2 separate regions of the Homo sapiens genome follow, and region 1 is linked to region 2. The links come from fine-mapping of genetic effects on gene expression. A gene starts in region 2. The other region holds a variant in brackets. All regions are shown on one strand. Distances are between the middles of the regions.

Region 1 (2,896 bases), 20 kb after region 2:
ACAGTAAACCAAGATTGTATCACTGCACTCCAGCCCGGGTGACAGAGCAAGAACTTGTCTGAAAAAAAAAAAAAAAAAGATAAAACATAAACAGTTTTGCTTTGTGTTACTTTATTCTTCGTGTGATTTTTAAATTTAAATTTTTCCTAGTCCTATAACAGTAAAATAGCTTTGATAGGACAGTAAACAGTTGACTTTTAGGAGACACTAAGAGCAACTGGGAACTCAGCCTTTTTCCATCAAACATGACTGTTTTGTTTGGTGTTTCTGTAAACTGTGTTTATGTGTCGGGGGTGGTGGTGTGCACACCAGGATTTACTTGTAGAGAGACATAGATGAAGGAAGGAGACAGCCTCCCGAGGAAGATGTTGCCTATGCTGGGGAGAGGGCTTGAAGGGGAGCCGGGGTGGGGGTTGGCGAGGTGGGTTGAGGGTGGGAGGGCTTCTGCTAGTATGTTCAGGGAGACAGATGGGCCGACTGAAGGCAGACAGGTTGGTGAGTGCGTTCACGGGACATGCTGGTTTCCAGTAGTGAAAGATTCTTTCTGCTCCTGGGACTCAAGAACCTGCTCGTAGTTGTTAACTCCAGGGTCCTGGGGAGGCCACCCATGCCCCACAGGGAAGAAAACTTCTTCACTCACTTACTGATCCTTGAAATGTCTTTTAACCAGAGACAAGTCTTGTATTTCACAGTCAGAGGGAGTATGCAAGACCCCCAGAAGAGGGCGCACGGCCACAATTCCACGCTGGTGGAAGGACTGGAATCCTGTCCTTCCCTGGGAACCCTCACCTGGGGAAGGATGAGTGAGTGTCACACTGAGGCCTCCCACAGTGGAGAAGCAGCAACGGAGAAGGAGGCCCCAGGAACCCTAAAGACAGAGACTTTAAGGTCGGGAGGGTTTCACAGAGGCTTTAGGAAACAGATTTATCCAACTGCCACAAAGGACTGAGCCTTCAGGCGTGGGATTAGGTCAGCCTTGGGGCAGGGGACATTCTTGGTCAATAGCAGGACTTTGATTTACGTAACGGGCTTATGCAATGTCATTACATAACATCATTAGGGGCATCGCAAATCGGATTCTATTTCAGGCTCTACAGGAGCCAGACCCAGGGCTCCCCTCCGGCCCAGCAAGACAGGATTCCCGTGGGCCCAGTGTCCCTGTCCTCGCTGGGATTTTCTCTCTTGAGATTTCACTGTGGGGCTTCCAGGAGAACTCCT[A/G]AGGCCTCAGGATCCTCTTTCTCCAGAATGATGGAGCTCGCGTCATAGCACGCTCATCCTTTGCAGATGCCTGCCCTGCTGCCCCTGCTGCCCCTGACCCTCCCAGTACTGTCCCCCCAAGCCCAGGCCAGTGGGCAACCTTCTCCTATCAGGTCCCCCTCTGACTTCTCCCCAACTCCTGCTTCCCCATCTATCCTCCAACTGTCAGGCTGATCTTCCTTATAACTTATTACGCCCCAGCTTAGAAACTTCTGCTCATCTGAATATCCAGAGGCCTTAGCGGTTGACACATTGTGCCACATTATTCTGTGTGTCCCTCTGGGGGTGGCAAGCTTCCCTGGCACAGAGCAGAGTGCCCACCTAGCCAGTGTGCAATACATGTCTGTTCTAACTCAAGGCTCTCTACAGTTGGCCCCAACAAACTTTTGAAACTTATTTTCCAAACCTCCTGGGTACACACCCTCCCTTACACCAAGCGGTCTTGTTCCTGTCTCCGGGCCGTGTGGTCCTTCCTGCCTCCTGCCCCGGCCTCCCTGGGCTTCCCCATCACAAAGTGCCTACTGCCCTGACTTCCCTTTTAAATCCTACCTATTTTTCGAGCACAGATGGGGGCCACCTCCTGGGGGTGTCCTTCCCCAATGATCCCAGCACACAACAATCTCCTCCTTTAAGCTGTCATGGTTCCTCTGCTTCCCACCTTACCAGATGTCGCCTGCAGTTGTTGGGTGTGTCCGCGTGTGCCTAAAATGTGTGAGTGCCTCCTGTGACTGAGGCTCCTACTTAATTCCCCTAAGCCCCCTTTGGTACGGGGTTGCTGTCCTCACTTCTCAGGTAAGGAAACCGGGGTTTAGAAAGGTTACACCCTTGTAGGAGCCTCATCTCTCCAGGCCCACTGGGAACATCTCGAGGGCGGAAGTCGTGTTTTTTTGTCTTGGTATTTCCAGGACCTGGCACATTTGAACACTCACAACACGTATGTTGAATTGTACAGGTGGAAGAGGAGCCTTTACAAGGCCTACCCATCTCAAAATCCCTCCCCTACCGGATAATCTGAGTGCCTAAAATCCACCCCTGCAGAGTTATAGCTGTGAACTAAGACAGGGTGACAGCAAACACAAATCCCAAAGTTAATAAATTCAGCGATCTATTTTTTCATGTGGCTGCTGAGATGGTTAAAGCTAAACTTACTGCTCAAATGCAATTATGTGAGTTAGATATCTGGTATGTTTCACATACTCTGCATGTCCCATTTAAAGCCTCACTGTAATATACCACCTTCGTTGGCCGTTACTGCAAAGTATATGTATTAGATGAGAAGAGAGCTACCTGAACTAAGAAGAGAGCTGAGAACCACACTCAGGAAAGCAGACAGAAAGGGGAAAGCAGGAATGTCAGTGTTGGAGAGGCCTGAGAATTTTCTAGGCTGTCGGTTCCTAACCTTTAGCAAACCACCAAGCATTTAGTTGTTTAAAGCTCCCTTCAGAGTAATGTGCATAGAAACAATGATTTGCACGTAATTTTAGAGGGTATGTGGACACCCTCTTTAAGCCCCTCTGTGGGCCCACATGGTCCGCAGAGCTGGTTTAAGAACCTCTGCTCTCATCCTGCATGACAGAACGGAGGCCTGGAGGAGAGAGGTTCTGCTGGGGCCTGAAGGGTGGGAGGGAGGGAAAGAGGA
Region 2 (2,896 bases):
CTGATATCCCTCCGAGTATCCTGTAGAGTCATTCCACCTAGGGGAGGAAGGGGGCTGCTGTTAACCAGAGCTGGGCCGGGCTCTCCTTCTCCTGGGTTCACCATTGGTCCCAGGGCCAAAAAAGGGCCCAGAGTGAGTCTCTCAGGGGGTCACGGATGACTGGGATCAACTCCTGCTCTGGAGTCCTCAGAAAGAGCCACACGCACACCCAGACACCCCCCTTTCCTGTTTTACACACATGCACACTCTCACTGTAAGTCTCACAACACCGGCACAGGTGCTCGGCCACACCCCAGCACGCACAGTGACACATGCTACTCCAGGTGCTCCCTTCATCCTGGAGGCAGAGGAGCCTTCACAGCTGAGCCCGAGTGATGGGCGCTCTTCCAGGCACTCATCCTTGTGGTGGGCTGTGGTAGCAGGAGCTCAAGGGCCATTCACACCCTCCCCTTCCCAGCCTCACTCAGCTCTGGATTCAAACCGGGGCTGATCAGGCAGCACTGGGATTGGGAAGAGACCCGAGTTGCAGTCACCCTTTCCCGTAAAGGGGCAGAAGGGAGGAAGCTGGAACCCAGGGGTTTGGAGAAAGTTCATGGAGAGGAGACCGGGAACTAACAGTCCAGACTTCAGCATCTCCGGAGCTTTCAGGAGTGGGCGCAGCGGGAACAAGGCCAAGGAGAAACCTCGTAACCTGGGCAGGGAGGGCGAGTGGAGTCCCCTGAGGAGCTGGGGCTGAGGGCTGAGGGCTGAGGGCTGCCCTCCACATCTAACTCCAGGTGGTGTCCGGGCCAGCAGGCCCCCCAGCAATCGTCTCCCGCCCATAGAGCCCTCCCCTCTCTGCAGCCCCCTCCCAGACCCTCCCCCGGACCCCGCCCTCAGAATCTCCGCCCAGCCCCGTCCCAGCCTTGCCCCCTGGAGCTCCCGACCTGGCCCGGCCTTCTCCCAGGGGACCTGGCTTAAAGTCCTCTCCCCAGTTTCTACTTCGAAGGACCCGTTCTCGCAAGCACAGGGGCCCAGCCCTCTCTCCCGCCTGCCCCCACGGCTCCCGCGGCTGGTTTCGAATCGGGTCCTCGGGACTCCAGGCGAGGGGCTGCGGGTCTGGGTGGATCGGGGTGGAATCCGGGTGGAGAATGGGGGCGGGGCCGGAGTTTCCCAGACCGACCCCCCGGGCCGTCCTCCCGCGGGAGCGCGGCGCTGCACACCCGGCTGGCACCGGCGACTTAGAGACGGCAGCGCACGACTCGCTGGCTCCCCCCCGACACGGCCCCTCCTCGTTCCCCCAACTCCTCCCCGCCACCCCCCCACCCGTTCGCGCTCCACCTTTCCCCGGCTCCTCCCTCCGCGGCCGCGAGCACCCTCCCTTGGCACCCTTCCCCGCAGCCCGAGTGCCTGTCCTCCCCAGCCTCCTCGCCCTCCTCCACCCCCTCTCCCATCACCCTCCCCTCCCCTCCCCTCCCCTCCCCCGTCCTGAGCTCCCACTTCCACACCTACTCCAGGCTCGGAGCCTTAGGACCATCACCTGCCCACCTAAGCCCACGGTGCTCCCTCCTGGGACCCCACTCCTGAAACCCCCTGCCCCTGCCTCCCCCAGCCCGGTGCGCCGGGGCTCTCCGCCCGCTCCCTCGGTCCCTCCTCCCTTGCAGGCGCCGTTTCCCGGCTTCGACTCCCCGCGCGTCTATCCCTCTCCTCCCCGCGAAGTTTCGGGGCTGTCAGTCTGTCAGTCTTTCAGGCCGTCAGCACCCGAGCTGCAGGCGGCGAGCGCCATTGTGAGCAGAGCCGGCGGGGCAGGAGGCCCGGGCGCCTGGGTCCCCGCGGCGCGGGCGGAGCGGCCGGCCAGCCAGGTAAGGGCCGGGGAGGCTCCTCTGCAGGCGGCCCCGCCCGCGTCTCCCTCAGCGCCGCGGTTGGGTCACGGCCGGCTCCGCGCAGGTGACAGCCCCGGGGGTAGGGGCGCGGACGGCGGGCGTGGGGGAGGGGCGCGGGTCCGGGGAGGTCGGGGGCTGGGGGGAAGGGAGGGCAAGGCCGGCGCGGGCAGGGTGAGGGCTGTGGGGGTAGAGGAGACCGGGGGGGCTGGAGGGAAGGGCGGGGGCTGGGAGGGGGTCGGGCGGGAGGCAGGTGGGAAGGGGGACGACGGGCCCCGAGGGGAGGAGAGAGGGAGTGTGGGAGGGGGCCGAGGGGGAAGGGGAGGAAGAAGCGGGCGCTGGGGACCGGGCCACTCGGTAGGGGCGGGAGAGGAGGGCGCTGACAGGTGAGCCCCGGAGCTGGGGAGGGGGCCGGGACCTGGAATGAAGTCGGCGATCGGAGCTGCTTGGGAGGGCGGCGGGGCAGGGAGGTGGAGCTGAGGGTCCCGTCGGGAGGAAAACTTGGGAGGGGTGAGAAGTCCGAGGGGAGCAGAAATAGGGAGGGGGCGCCGCGGCGGAGAAGAGAGGCGCGGAGGGGTGTTCGGAGGGGAGACGGAGTGGGGAGGGCAGGGCCCGCGGGAAGGTCCCGAGAGAGCGGGTCAGCCCTAGACCCCCAGGCTTGGGGGCCGGAGGACCCGGGAGCTGGGAAGCAGCCTGGGAGGGGGGAGGGGAAGAGCGGTTCTGGGGACTGGGGACGGGGAGGGAAGCGAAGCTGGAGCCTGCTGGGGAGACAGAGGGGGAAGGGAGGCGGGGGCCTCGGAGGGGAAGGAGAGCTGCAGAAGGGAGGGGGGAGGGGGAGGGCGGTGGGGAGACGTGGGGGAGGGCTGGAAAGGGGGAGGGGAAGGGAACCGAGGTGAGGCGAGGAAAGGAGAAGGAAGGGAAACCGGGGTGGGGGAGGAGAGGAGGGAGGGGAGAGGAGAACTGGGTTGGGGAAAAGAGCTGAGAGGAGGAGGGCGGGGGTTGGCGAGGAAGGAAAAGAGGAGGGGGAAAGGAAGGGA

The links.
Region 1: its variant is fine-mapped to the expression of ZNF467 in whole blood (INTERVAL, PIP above 0.99).

What each region holds. Positions count from the first base shown.
Region 1 is chr7:149,751,673-149,754,568 of GRCh38, reverse strand. No RefSeq gene overlaps it. Among named protein-coding and RNA genes, the nearest start is that of ZNF467, 20 kb to the left of the region's middle. The variant A/G (reference allele first, on the strand shown) is at 1,219.
Region 2 is chr7:149,772,053-149,774,948 of GRCh38, reverse strand. ZNF467 (zinc finger protein 467) reads left to right here and starts at 1,361. Exons shown (of 5, transcript NM_207336.3): 1 at 1,361-1,841. RefSeq lists silencers at 1,739-1,918, 2,855-2,896.